Homo sapiens: one gene and its partner. The protein of the gene in region 2 interacts with the protein of the main gene of each other region in a biochemical or structural test. Each region holds a gene or a part of one and is shown on either strand. Other genes may lie near its edges.

What was found. Proteins that work in one complex are often made in the same cells at the same time.
Region 1: the proteins of NMBR (region 2) and NMB form a complex in vitro, tested with the Homo sapiens proteins (one study listed by BioGRID).

The regions. Positions count from the first base shown.
Region 1 is NC_000015.10:84,655,199-84,662,428, forward strand, and holds the start of NMB (neuromedin-B isoform 1 preproprotein), read right to left. Parts: upstream 3,002-7,230; 5' UTR 2,955-3,001; coding exon 2,798-2,954; intron 2,483-2,797; coding exon of another isoform or gene 2,202-2,482; intron 2,151-2,201; coding exon 1,978-2,150; intron 212-1,977; coding exon 176-211; coding exon of another isoform or gene 72-175; 3' UTR 1-71. UniProt on the Homo sapiens protein: Stimulates smooth muscle contraction. Induces sighing by acting directly on the pre-Botzinger complex, a cluster of several thousand neurons in the ventrolateral medulla responsible for inspiration during respiratory activity.
Region 2 is NC_000006.12:142,144,107-142,152,068, forward strand, and holds the start of NMBR (neuromedin-B receptor), read right to left. Parts: upstream 3,017-7,962; 5' UTR 2,938-3,016; intron 1-2,937. Other genes in the region: vacuolar protein sorting-associated protein VTA1 homolog, read left to right, coding at 3,182-3,293. UniProt on the Homo sapiens protein: Receptor for neuromedin-B. Contributes to the maintenance of basal sigh rate through signaling in the pre-Botzinger complex, a cluster of several thousand neurons in the ventrolateral medulla responsible for inspiration during respiratory activity.

The sequences.
Region 1 (7,230 bases), on a different chromosome or scaffold from region 2:
TGTGTCTGCATCAGCGATATTTCTGGTGACCCAGCCAGAAATCACAGTAATGGAGTAACAGAGATTTGAGCTCAGGATTTACATCCAGATGGGGCCATCAACAGGGTCCCATTCAGCACCTTCCCTGGGTGGGCACAATCTAAGCCACGCTGTTGTGTCTGCCCCATTATTGGTGTCATTTCTGCAGTATTTGTACCAGCAGCCTCCTGTACTGAAGAGAAACATACAGAAGAATTGAGCCAGGGAGGGGCTCCTGATAAAGATAGGGGCATCCTGCCATTCCTAAGTGCCAGATGTCTGCAGAGGTGGGCACCAGCAGGCTGTCAGCTGAGGCAGGCCCCAGAGCACCCTGAATTGCCTTGGAGGGGTCGGGGCAGTAGTTTTCTCAGAACACAGCCCCAACCACCCAGGGTGGTCATGACAGTCAAAGAAGATCGTGGAAGAAAATCCAAATACAGTGCTTGGTGCTGGGCTAGTGTCAGCGTCCTCACTCCCCCACCCCAGCTCTGCCCCAGACCTCACTCTGAAGCCCCAGACGTAGGCACTGCTGCTTCTGAGATTCTCTAGTTGGTCTGCATGTGTCAGAGCTTCAAAACCAAGGGCATTAGAGGTGACATTGTTTCCCTTCAGACTCAGCCAGCCCAAGCTCCTAGGCCTTACATCTGAGGTCCTCAGGGGCTGCTGGTTCTGTGCCTCAGGAAGTCAGGGATGTTGGTTGAGGCTGGGTTGGACCTTTTCTAGGGAATGCCTCTCCCTTCAAAATGCACACACTATATGCTAGGCACACTGGGGGATATGAAGGCGAGTCTACAACAGGTGCCGCCAGGGAGCTCACAGACTGATAAGAGCTCGCATCTACTAAGGGCTGTCTATGAGCCAGGCACCATGCTGAGCATTTGACATAAATGGTCTCATTTAATGGGAGATGGGCCTTATTATCTTCATTTTATGGGTGAAGAATATTGAGGCTTTAGAGAAGTTAAGGGACATTTCTAAGGTCATACAGCTACTAAGTAGCTAGGTTATGAGCCCAGCACGTTGTAGTCAAAACCCACATTCTACCACATCACACTGCCTTCTGCACACAGCAGCAGGACCAGGGAGGGTGGTGTGCAGTAAGGACAGCACCAGGAGCAGGGAATGAAGGAGTTGCCACTCAGCGGGGCTATACCTTGAGGCTAGCTTGGCTCCAGCTTTGGAGTCTTGAATCCCATAGATCAGTGACTGACAACCAATAATGATTTGGGGCCCTCTCCCCCAGCAGACATCTGGTGATGTCTGGAGGTCTTTTCAGTTGTCACAACTTGATGGGGGGGAAAGATGCTACTGGCATCTAGTATGTAGAGACCAGGGATGCTGCCAAACATCCCATGATGCACACGTCAGCCCTCACAAGAAACAGTGATTCAGCCTAGAACGTCAAATGTACTGAAGTTGCTAAACCCTACCACTGGATACTGAGGCAGATGAGAGAATGGGAAGAGCTCCAGTCCAGGTGAACAAGGTCCAGACTCTGTCTTGGCTGCTGACTTCTCTTTCCCTCTCTGGGCCTCAGGGTCCCATTCCGGCCACAAGCATACACAGGACACAGCAAAGGTGGACTTGACTAATGCAGCAGGGAACAGCATGGGTGGGACAAGACTGTGTAGACTGGGGGAGAAAGGTCCTGCTCCAAAAGGCTGATGATCCCAGTCTGTTACTTTAGACTGGGTGATGAGTCAGGGGAACTTCTTTCCCTACTTCTTGCCCCATGGGGTCTACTGGGAAGGTCAGCTTCCTTTCTTTGGACTGTTCCTCCTTTGAGCTCTGCCTCAAGAGGGAAAAGCCTGGAAACCTGGCTTTCTGGGGTCCACACCCATAATGTCCTAGTCAGACAGTCACACCCTAATACAGTACTGGGTGGTAATTCCTCCCATGCAGGATCCGGGGATGGCCCCAGCTGGGCCCTCCTGACATTGGAGCAGGGGCCCGGCTCACCTGGATTTGGGGTGCGGGGCGGCTGAGGCTCACGCCCAGAGCCTTCTTTAGCAGGAGGATTCCGAGCAGATCATGACTCAGCTGCAGTCGCTGGTCCCTCAGGGAGGTGTGGGGAGCTGTCCCCAATGGGGATGGGCTGGAAGGCTCCAGACTCTTCTTGCCCATGAAGTGACCTGGAAAGGAGGTGTCCAGGCACAAGGAAGTCAAGCAGCCAGGATCCTACCTCAGAGGAAAAGTTCCTCATCTCTCCCACGTTTCCGTTCTTGTAGCGGGAAGACACTTAACCTTCCTCCTCTTGGTGCTTCCACCTCACCAAGGAGCCACAAAGGTGTCTGGGTGGTGGCAAAGCCTGCTCCCTCAGCTTTTCCTGAACAGGTAGAGAGGATGGCACAGCTGGCAGGAAGGTGGGATGGTCCAGGGCCAGGGAGAAACTCTGCTAGTTGTGTGGGCTGCTTGGACAAGGGACGAAAAAGGGCAGGGTAGGAAGTGGAGAGTGAAGAGGCGCCTGGAAAGTGGAGGTGCAGCAAAAACACACCAGCGGTTAGAAGATTCGGTTAAGTCTCGCCTAAGGTAAGGGGCACCGGCTGGCAGTGGGATTTAGGATCTAGCCCAGCCCTGTCTTAAACTGGCTGCGCGACCTTAGCCAAGTCACTGACCTGTCCGGGTCTCAAGTACATATCTATTAAATTAGATGAGCCCCAGGGTTTTCCACCTGCTCCGACACTAGTGTCCGTGGCTGAGGAGCGGCCAGAGGGTTGAGAAGGAAATGGGGTCTGAACTGGATGAGGGGCGCTTGCTTGCTCCGTCCCCAAAGACTTACCGGTGGCCCAGAGGTTGCCTCGCGAGTGCACTCGGATCTTGCTGGCTCGGCTGCGGGGCTCCGGGAGATCCCAGCTGAGCGGGGCGACGCCGGCAGCGAGCAGGGCGAAGAGCAGGAGGCTGCCGAACATCCGAGCGCCCCCCGCCCGCCGGGCCATGGCTGTGCCCGGGCCGCGGCTTCGTTCGGGCGCGCTTCCCGGCCGCTGGGCTCCGGGGCTGCCTTCGATCCTTTTAAATCCGCGCCCCTGGGGGCGGAGCCTGCCCTGAGCAGCGGAGCCGTGCCCCGCGCCCGCCGCCCTCCCCGCCGTCCCCACCCTCCCGCTAGGTTACCAGGCAGGGGCACCCCCTTTGGGCCGCCCAGAGACCTGCACACCCACACTCTGGCCCGCACGCGGGCACCGCTTCCGCCAGGGGCTTCTGGCGGAAGCCCGCCACCTTCAGGCTAAGGACCGGGCACCGGCCAAACAGGGGCCCGGCCCCGGCGGCGGAGCCGCTTCCCCTGGCCCTGCCTTGCCACTCTGCCACGGCTTTCGGCCAAATAGGCACTTCAGCCCTCTGAGCCTCTCTTCATGAGGGTAGAGGTCGGGCGAGGAGCTCTCCTCCCGGGTAACAGGCTTTTTTTTTTTTTTTTTTTTTTTTTTCTGAGACAGGATCTGGCAGTATCGCGCAGGTTGGAGTGCGGTGGCGCGATCACGGCTCACTGCAAACTCAACCTCCAGGGCTGGGCTCAAGCCTCAGCCTCCCCAGAAGCTGGGACCACAGGCACACGCCTTCATGCCTGGCTTTTTTTTTTTTTCTTTCCAAGAGACTGGATGTCGCTAGGTTTCCCAGGCTAACAGAGGCATTTTTACAGTGTCCAGCCAAGTGCTAGGCACCAAAGGACTTCCATAAACTAATCCCCATCACCTCCGCCCTTTGGGGGAATCTGACCCGTGTTCACCTTGCTCTCTGCCCTCTCACAGCCAGCATCACAGTCTGGAAATGTTCTGGCACACAGTAGGTGCTCAGAATGGGAATGCAGAATGATGGAGGGTGGGACAAAGGGCCGCTTCTGAGGAACGGGCATCCAGCTGGAGGGCCTGGCTTATGGGCAGGAAGCAGACCTCTGGGTCAAGAAAGTGGAAAGAGCACTGCACCCAGGACTGCACTGCACCCAGGAGTCCATGTACAAGCTGTGACCCGGCTGAACCTCACTTTCTTCAACTGTAAAATGGTAATAACCACACTGCCCTAATTTTAATACTTTTACATGTTTTAGCATAAGTACTCTGTGGCCGGAAGCAACAATTCTGTAGGACCTGCCCTCTCACACCTGGCACTTTGTTCTCCCCAGGAGCTGTCTGGACTTTCTTGGAAAGAACTTCTGGATAAGTGGTATCATATAATGAGCAGAGGAAAACACTGTGCTCCAGAAGAATACATTTATGTTTGCTTAATTAACTGAAACCCATTGTTCAGAGCACTACACTAGACACAAGAAGAGGGGCGACAGATAATTCCTTGCTCCCAAGGGAGTTAACCATCTCATTGGAGAGACAAGTACACAAAGGAGAGAGTGATGGAGGAGCGGGGGTGCAGACCACCCCTTGGACTCTGGATACCTCTGGAACACGGAACAGAGTGGCCGTACCAGAACCTACTCCCATCTGGCTTGATAATGGGACCTGCTTCTAGGACTCTTGCTTAGTATCTAGCTCAGCAAGGTTGCTAGCTCTGTGGATCCTCATCCTAGAAGGGGAAGCTCACATGAAAAACTGGCTGTCATACCCAGCTGGAGGCCCAGCTTCCAGGAGCATGACACACAGGACAGGGACGTTTCATTTCTGGCCCTGGCTTTCCCCCCAATCTCCTTGCTTCTCACCTCCCACCCTGGCATTTACACCTCTCTGCTTTCTTGTCACAGCTTAGCCATGGTGTACAGATATAGCTCTTATCACCTTCCGGTAATCATTCCTTTGTGACCCCCCTCCCTCTCCTCTGCATCCATCAAACCCCCATCCTATCTTCTCTAGTCCATGGATAATAGAAATTAGCGTGAACACACAGAAGCTGGTATTGATTGAGTGCTGCATCACTTAAATGCTTGAAGGAATCTTATTTGGTAGGTTTCTGTCTCCTCATTTTTATAGGTGGGAACAGGCTAAGAGGTTTAGCCACTTTCCCAGAAGTCCCACTGGAATCAGATTTCAGGTCTGTCTGGACCACTGCATCAGGCCCCCAAATCTATGCAGGGCAGATACAACTCTCCCTAAACCACACCCACTCCCATTGTACCATCTCAAATTTCAACACCAAGTTGTGTTTATGTATCTCAGGAGGGAGAGGGAGTGGGCACTGCATTTCGAGTTTCACCTCTCTTCCACAGGTGACTGGACCTTGAGTTCTGCTAAGGTTATTTATACTTAAGCCAAGCTTCCTCTGACACAGCCTGGGTTCACAGCTGCAGCCACAGCTCTGAGGCTGGCCCCAGGCACCCTTGGAACCATTTGCTCTGTCAGCCTACTATAGAAAAAAAAGGGGGGGGGCCTCTGAGGACCCTGGAGAAAACAGCAGGGGAGCACCTCCACAGACTTAGGAGCACTCACCTTAGGGAAAAAAATGGGAGGCACAGGGGAGAAGGTGGCTTGCTCAAGGGAGTGCTAGGCTCTAAGTTTAGCATGAGGACCTCAAATGCCAACTGCCTGTTCCCTAAGTCCACTCTGGTGGCAAGAGAAGTCCAAAGGCCTCCACTCCATGGGGAAAGGCTAGCATTGAATTGAATGGAGGTACGTGGGGAAGCTCTTCAGAACCCACTCTCGACCCTCCTAGGATTCTACAACATTCAAGGACATGCACAGAAAATGTGAGGCAGGTTCACAAAACAACCCATGGGGTAACTAAAAGGGTGAAAGATACATGGCAAATCCTATCATAGCTAACACCAGGAAAATATTTAAAGTACACCAAGTTTTTTAATAAAAAAATTGCTTCATCAAAAATAGCGATTAAGAATGGATATTACAGCCGGGAGCCAGGGCTCGCACCTATAATCTTAGCACTTTGGGAGGCTGAGATGGGCGGATCACCTGAGGCAGGAGTTCGAGACCAACCTGGCCAACATGGTGAAACCTCATCTCTACTAAAAATACAAAAATTAACCGGGCGTGATGGCAACGCACCTGTAATCCCAGGTACTCAGGAGGCCGAGGAAGGAGAATCACTTGAACCTGGGAGGTCAGGGCGGCAGTGAGCCAAGATCGCACTACTGCACTCCAGCCTGGGCAACAAGTGCAAAACTCCGCCACAAAAAAAAAAAAAAAGAAAGAAAGAAAGAAAGAAAAAGAAAATAAATGACAGGAAACCTAGAGTTGTCACAACAGGATGTGTAAAACAGGGGTGTTCAATCTTTTGGCTTCCCTGGGCCACATTGGAAGAGGAATTGTCTTGGGCCACACATAAAATACACTAACATTAATGATAGCCGATGAGCTTAAAAAAAAAAAAAAGTCACACACAAAATAATCTCTTACTGCTTTAGGAAAGCTTACGAATGTGTGTTGGGCTACATCCAAAGCTACTGGGCCGTGGCCGGACGTGGTGGCTCACGCCTGTAATCTCAGCACTTTGGGAGGCTGAGGCGGATGGATCACGAGGTCAGGAGACCGAGACCATCCTGGCTAACATGGTGAAACCCCGTCTCTACTAAAAATACAAAAAATTAGCCGGGTGTGGTGGCGGGTGCCTGTAGTCCCAGCTACTCGGGAGGCTGAGGCAGGAGAATCTCTTGAACCCAGGAGGCGGAGATTGCAGTGAGCCGAGATCGTGCCATTGCACTCCAACCTGGGCAAAAAGAGAGAAACTCCGTCTCAAAAAAAAAAAAAAAAAAAAAAAAAAAAAAAAAAAAAAAAACCTACTGGGCCGCATGTGGCCCGAGGGCCGCGGGTTGGACAGGCTTGGTGTAAAATCTCTATTTTGGCAAATCTTTGAGCACAATCTCCAACTGTATGGGCTGGGGAGATGAAGAGAAACATCCTGGGATATCTCAGGCCCTACTCTTTACTTTCAGAGTGAAGAAGGGACCAGAGAACCAGGAAAACAGCAGAATCTTTAAGGGAAAATCAGGGATATTGGATACAATTTCTTAAACTCAGAGGGAACGCATAGGGATTACCTATAAAATCAGAACAGTAACCTCAAGAAGGAAATCTTTAGTAAATCAAAATTGCCAAAATACAAAAGTTTTTTTTTTTAATTTTTATTTATTTATTTTTTTTTGAGACAAGGTCTTGCTCTGTTGCCCAGGCTGGAGTGCAATGGCATGATTTCAGCTCACTGCAACCTCTACCTCTCAGGCTCAAGCAATTCTCCTGTCTCAGCTTCCACTGCGCCCGGCTAACAAAATGTTTTCTTAAAGGCAATATTTGAAAAAAAGAAAATACCTACACCTAATGAGAA
Region 2 (7,962 bases):
GCAAATGGTCCTGGCCAAGTTTTCAGGGTCTTCCCTATCATTCTTCTGCGGAAAATTTAAGGAAAAATTATTTCTACTTGGGGGGGATGCTAAAATAATAGGATGTTAGTCTCATGATACTGGAAGCCAAATTTCTACCACATACAGTATCTTAAAAAGATACAGCTATAGATATATATATTATCCTGATTACATTGACTGATGCCCTGTCATTTGCCAACAAGATGGTTCTGACCAAACGGACACAGAATATTTTTATTGTCAGATGATCACACATACATGTGTGTATGTAGGGTATGGTGTAAAACATTTTTTCCCATCAAAACACCTGTCAGCTCTAGTTTCTCTCCATTTTCTTCTTCCTATGGTTGCCCTCACCCCCTATTTTGTTCTACAGCTCTGCCCTCCCCTTACTTGCCAAGGTTCTAGCCCAGTCCTAGAGGGTGATGTCAGATCCTTCAGAAACTGGTCTGAGATGAATGGAGAAGAAGAATGTAGGTCTTTCTAGTAAAATATCATAGTAAAACAAGAAAAAGCAACCTCACAGTCATTAATATTTGTTTTATAGCATAATTTCAATGTGTGTTACACTAACACTGTCTCTGTACTGTTCTCCATCAAATCAATTATCATCTCATGAAAGGGTTAGCATATTTAGAAAGAAGAGAGCATGAGGCTCTTGTCTGTAATCTCAGCACTTTGGGAGGCCGAGGCAGGAGTATCACTTGAGACTAAGAGTTCAAGACCTGCCTAGGCAACAAAATAATAATAATTAGCCATAGTGTTATGTGCCTGTGGTCCCAGTTACTCAGGAGGCTGAGGCAAGAAGATCCTTGAGCCCAGGAGTCCAAGACTGCAGCGAGCTCTGATAGTGTGCTGCACTCCAGCTTAGGTGACAGAGTGAGAACCTGTCTAAAAAAAAAAAAAAAAAAAGAAAGAAAAAAAGAAGGAAGGAAGGAGAAAAGAAAGAAAAGAAAAGAGCATGTGTTGGCAGATCAGAGAGTAAAATCCAACTCCAACCATTTCACTTTCTTATTTTTCCCTCAGTCCTGCTCATGAGGGTATGCAAATAAGAGTACACATGAATGTATGCAAATGAGAAAGAGTGGCAAAATTCACTTCTGAAGGGGGAGATCAGGAGAGTAACAGGAGGGTGCAGCCTTCTACCAGGAAGAGGAACATTTGTTTCTCAGACATAAGATGATGGAATAGAGAAAAGATAAAACATAAGATCTAGAAAGACATCATAGTCAAGTAGTAATGGCTAGGTGCACAGGCTCTGAAACCAAAATACCTAGATTTTAATGTGGAATACTCATCCTTCCTGGCTGTGACCTAGTGCAAGTTATCTAGATTCTATGTGTCTTATTTTTCTCATCTGTAAAATAATAATGATATGTTCCTCATAGGGTTGTGGTGCAAATTAAATAAATTAATATAAAGACCCTAGAAACATGCATGATACATAGTTGATGCTCAGCAAATGCTGCTAGCTAGTTATTATTACTTTAAGTTGTGGTAGAGGCAAGGCAAAATAATTCATATCTGGTGGTGGCCTTAATCTCAATAGCAGGAAATGCTGTTGTAGACCAAGGAAATTGGGGCTGAGTGCCTAGCTTGAATAGAGCGAGAGAAGTTTGAAACACCATCTGTGGACTACAGCACTGGTCCTTAACCCTAGACGTAACATTAAAATTACATGAGGACCTTTTAAAGATACTGACATTTAGGATCCCACCTAGAACAATTAAGTGAGAATGCCTGGAGTGGGCTTTAAAGTTGATCTTTAAGGGCAGCTGCGGTTGAGAATCAAGAAGTAATAGGAAACAAATAAATGAAAAGTTGTGAGTATAGAAAGAAAACAGTTATGGTTATCCAACTCTGCTTTTCTTCATTGATTTCTCTACCAATCTAGCAACTTTTGACTGGAAAGTCCAAATAGTGGGAGTAAGAGAAAGAGAAAGAAACCATACATTCTCCAGTGGTAGGAAATATGCCGCTGAGATTGGGGAAGAAGACAGAACTGAGTTTCAGGCTGAGTAAAAAAGCCCGACCCAGAATAAGATGATGGACTTTGCAAATAGGTCTAGGCAACGTATGTGGAGTGGGATAATATGAGGACATGGAGCGGTTTCTTCTGGGGGTGAGAGAGTGATCAGAAAATAGTAGGCAGAGGGGAATTTCCGAGCTGGAGATTTTGGCTCTTGGGGATAGTGTGATTTCAGTGAAAACTAGTTTTAAGATGAATTGTCAAAACTGAGGACTGAGATAAAATAAAGAAGGTTATTGGAGGAAGTAAATAAAGTGTACAGTCCTGAAAGATATAAGTAAGGGATGGAGAGGAGAGGAAGAGAATTGAAGTCATTGAGGGTAGAAGGAAAAGTGATGCCTACTGTACAATGGTTAAGAGTTACCAGCGTTGAAAACGTCCCAAACACCCTATCTTACATTAAGACAAGATAATAAATATGAAAATACTTTACAAATTGTTAATCACTCTCCAGAAAAAAAAAAGGTGATCTACAGATTATTCATTCACTAAAATACGTACTAGCCAGCTGAGAACAAAAGTTCAATCTTCTTTAAGCTTCATATGTTTAGCTTAATTTGGCGCGAAATCTGATTATTTTATCCAGTATGTCAACATAGAAAAATTTAATTTACAATTTAAACACATTATTTCTCTCTCATGCAAGTATTGAAATTAAAGTTTCTAAAATCAAAAAGGCTTCTAAAGGACACTGCTATATGGAATATTAATGTGGCATATTAACTGGAAGTGGTAATTCCTGAATGACGCCAAAGGCAATTCTCGCCTTTATACTTTCTCCCAGTCAACATACATTATTTTCTTGTTTTTCCTTTTCTATCCTTCCTTTTGCCACAAACAACAAACCAAACAAAAAAGCAAAACAAAACAAAAACCCTTCCTCCTACCAGCAGAGAGCGCTAGCGCCATGCGCGGCATAAGCGCCAAAATGCTCGGGTCTTCTGTGGGTTCTAACCGCCGAGAGCCAAGCACCCTGAGGTTGTCCCAGCTGGGGATCCGTAGTTGACTTGACGTCGCTGAGCAACGGAAGAGTGGGCAGCATTTGCTCTGAACGCTCGTGCGCGCTACCGCCCAGACGGAAGCGGAAGTGCCGGTGGAGCGCGAGTAGGAAGTGGTGAGTTCGGAGTAGAGATGGCCGCGCTTGCACCGCTGCCCCCGCTCCCCGCACAGTTCAAGAGCATACAGCATCATCTGAGGACGGCTCAGGAGCATGACAAGCGAGACCCTGTGGTGGCTTATTACTGTGAGTCTTTCCGAGTGGCCGCGCCCTTTCTTTCCCAGTTGCATTTTAGGGCCCACACACCTCCCTGAGGTTCTTGGGGCATGCCCCGCCCCCCTCGCTTTAAACCTGAGCTTTGACCTCGAGCCTACCCAGGGAACTCCCTGGGTTCCCACCCCCTGGCAGTAGGAATCCCAAAACACCATGGTGTCCACTGCTTCTCCTATCTTGTGCTTAAATGCTCCAGTACTGACTACACAGGCTCTTGAACTGTGGAATATAATCTTCCAAGGTTTTCTCTGTGTGTGTACACACAAGAGCTTCTTGTCTCAAATAGGAATCCTGAAAATAAATTGAGTTAGGTTTAAAACGAAGGTGAGTGTCCGAAAGAAGGAGTGATGTGGATAAAAGGACGATAGACTAGTTGAAAACATAGTAATAAGTGAATATTATTTATGACAGCATGCAAGCCCAATCAGAAACTCATTTGGTTAAATGGGGAGTATCTGCTACTAAATAAGCAGTTGAATTTGACCTTTCCCCACCCAGCTGCTCTCTCCTACCATGCAGAATTTTTAGTTTTGACTTCTTTGAATAATACCCGCTGTTGAGACCTTTGAAAGCAGTATTTTCACTTTGAGTGTTATACGTTGAATTTACAGTTTGATTAAAAAAAATATAGGTTAACTCTGCTCAAACTTGTAGTGAGTAAAGGGAGTGCCAGTAATTCTGTGTTAACTTTATTTTGTATTCTGTACTCTTAACTTTACTGCAAATAAAACAAGTAACTGGACAATTATAATTCTGAAAAGGATATTTAGAGTTGAGAAGTTGGATATAATGCGTCCATTGTTGTGTATATTGTAAGGTTAGCTAAAATCTGGTCACTGTTATCTCTGCCATACTCCAAATGTACCCTGTTTCTCAAATGTGCAAGGCCTTTTCAGACCTACCATCTTCCACTCTCTTGGAATGTGCACCTTTTTCTTGCACTTGGCAAACTCATGATTCAAGATCTAACCCAAATGTCACCACTTCTGTGGGCAGCAAATTGATTATTCTCTGTGCATTACTTCATTTTGTTCAAATTTTACAGCATCATTTTTATTATACTTGTTCTTCAGTTTCCTCAAGCAGGGTCCATATTCATTCAGTATGTGTTCATTGAGCTACCTTTGTATCAAGCATTAGTAGGCGCTGTGACTACATTTGCTGCATTTTTGGAGCTTACATACAATGGAGGTAGAGAGTTTCAACAATATAGAGTCTATCATACATAGAGTATTAAAAGCTTATGAAGACAAATAGAGCAAGGAAAAGGAATAAGAGTATCAGGAGTAGTGGTGGCAGGGAGTGCAGATGGGATTTCAGTTTCATAGTGGTCAGGAACACTTCACTGAATTGACATTTGGGGAAATAAAAGAGTGAAAGGCATACCTTGCACCATCTGGGAAAGAGTATTCTCCATAGAGGTTATAAAAGTCCCGAAGTAGAGGCTTGCTGGAAGGAGGAGTAAGTAGACTATTGTGACTGGAGTGGATGGGGCTTGGGAGTGATGGGATAAGGTCAAAGAATCTCTCATCCCTAAAGGAAATTCCTGTTCCCGATCCCTGTATCATGTATCTTTGTGACAAACCAGGGACACCTTACTCACTGTCGTCCTTTCCCTCTAGATTTTTCTAAACCTAATCCAGTTTCCTTTATTTAAAAATATAACATAAACTCTCACCATATCATTCCCTAAAGTTGCAGCTCTGCTTTTCCAGCCTTATAGGTAAGTTTGAAATAGTTGTCCATAAGTTAGCTTTACGCCTTTATCTTGTAGAGCCTTTCAGCCCATGCAGTCTGGTTTTCATGCCCAGTATTTCACTGAAACTGCTCTCATCAGGCTTATGAAGAAATATTTTTATTGCTCAGGTGACACTTAACAATTTTAGTTATGAAACATGTACATATAAAAGCATATGTAATGTGCAGACAGTTTAAGGAATAATAAAATGAACACTAATATGCCTATCACATTTGATGTTATTAAACTTTTTAATTTTTGACAATCTGGTGGGTGTGAAATGGTGGTGTCTCATTGGAGCGAAATCTGCAATTCTCTGAGTCTTAATGAGGTTTAGCATCTTTTCATATGTTAATTAACCATTTGTGATTCGGTTTTGAAATACTTGTTTATTGCTTTTGCCCATTTATCTGTCACAGTCTTGTCTTAATAATGTTAGATGTTAATCCTTTGTTATATGTGTTGTAAATATCTTCTCCCATTTCAGTTTGATTTTTCACTCTGAAGACCTTTGATGTTCAGAAGTTCTTAATTTAAAAATGTTATCAATCATTGTATGAATCTCTTAGGACTTAACCTTCTGATTTTATAGGCTTTCATTTCTTTTCGTGTATTTGTTTGGGACTTTGGCTTTCTACATCTGTAGATGGGTGTTTTTAATCAATTTTGGAAAATTTTCTCTACTATTATTTGTTCAAATATTGCTTATATTTCTATTCTCTCATAAAAGTTTGATTAGACATGTTTTGCACTTCTCCCATTTAACTTCCTTGTCTCTTGATTCTGTCATTTTTTTTTATCTCTTTGTCTTTCTGTGCTGCATTCTGTGTAATTTCTTGAGGTTTATCTTCACCTCCCTATATTTTATTGTTTAACCCTTTTATTGAATTTCTACTTTAATTTTTTATTTTAGTGTTCTCTTTTGGTTTTCATATTGGCCTGGCCATTTCTGATAGTTTCTTGTTACTGATATTTTTAACCACTCTATTTCTGTGAACACTTTAAATATATGGATTTATGTTTGCTGTTTGATAACATTGTAGCTGCTATATTTGTGGGCCTGATTCTGCTTTTCAACAGAACACTGCTCTTGGTGACTTCTTTCCTTACAATTGTGGGCTAGTCATGCTAGACCAGCGCTCTCCAAACTGGAGTAGGCAAATAATTCCAAAGGAATCAATTTTCCAATTCTTGACTTCCATGTTTTCCTTCCAAAAACTGTTCTTAACAAAGCTCCTGTGGTCAGGGTAGCAAAGTAGTATATAATATGCTGCTTATCTTTTCCTACATCCTGTTCACAATTGTCCTTCTCCCACTTTAATGAAGAACGGCATACTCTCACGCATCCTGAGTGCTTTTATGTTGTATTGCCTTGAAAGAGAAGGTGGAAAATCCTCCAGGGTGTCCAGACAAAAGAGACAATTCAAATTACCCATGTTAGTGAAGCCTCCATTAATTAAGGCATTGGATAGACCTTCCTATCTTTCCTGGTCTTACATTGAAGAAAACCAGCCAGAGCAAAAAATAAACCTTCATTCGGGAGTTCAAGACCAGCCTGACCAACATGAAGAAACCCTGTCTGTACTAAAAATACAAAATTAGCTGGGTGTGGTGGCGCATGCCTGTAATCCTAGCTACTTGGGAGGCTGAGGCAGGAGAATCACTTGAACCTGGGAGGCAGAAGTCGCAGTAAGCTGAGATCGTGCCATTGCACTCCAGCCTGGGCAGCAAGAGCGAAACTCCATCTCCAAAAAAAAAAAAAAAGCTAAGCATGAAAGGTTCCAAAAGAGCATTCTAATTTGAGGGGAAGGAGGTAGAACTTTGTATAAGGGGGATGCAGGGAGTCACCTGGAATTGTATATGGGGGATGCAGGGAGTCACCTGGAGTTTGTCTCTTTTCAGGAACAGTTGGTCAGTGGATCTCCGAAGAGGGAGGAGTTATTCTGCGATATTAGCAGCCATTGTTAGGTCATCTTGGATTTTATCAAGAGGTTGAGGAGGAACAGTTTGGGGCCAAGGTCATGAGCAAGATGATGTGAGGAAGATTAGCTGTAGGGACAGGGATGTGGAGGGACCACAGTGGGAAATCTCAGTCTTTCAGAGTCTCTTACATTTATACATGTATCTGTTAAGGGTAATGCCTTATGTTAAAACCGGTCCTGTGTTGCAGTATTCTGAATTCTCAAAATGATAAAAATTTTCATGAGATGACCTTACTGCCTCATTCTGTATTCATTATTAAAGAATACCAATCTTGGGTTGAGAGCAAAACCAAGAACAAAGGAGAAATACTGAAGATGAGAGTACCTTGTTTCATCCAAACAAGCTCCTGCAAGGCTCTGCAGCTTATTGCTATTTTATAATTAGAATTTAGAAATAAAATGGGGACATGAGTTGACATTCCAACTGGAATATTGTATTTCTCTGAAAAAGTAACTCTTACTTGGCTGATTAGTTTGGTGTTAGCAACTGGCATTGCCATTAAACAGTGTGGTAGACATTCTCTTTAAACTAAATGAGCTAAAATCTTCGGCTCTGAGGTTTTTTGTTTTGTTTTGTTCTTCTGGAAGTACATTTAAAACAGCTTGGCCGAGCACGGTGGCTCATGCCTGTAATCCCAGCACTTTGGGAGGCTGAGGCAGGCAGATCACCCGAGGTCAGGAGTTCAAGATCAGCCTGGCCAATATGGTGAAACCCCATCTCTACTAAAAATACAGAAATTAGCTGGATGTGGTGGCAGGTGCCTGTAATCCCAGCTACTGGGGAGGCTGAGGCAGGAGAATTGCTTGAACCTGGAGGTGGAGGTTGCAGTGAGCTGAGATCGTGCAATTGCACTCCAACCTGGGGAACAGGAGCAAGACTTCGTCTCAAAAAAATAATAAGAAAAAGAAGAAGAAGAAGAAA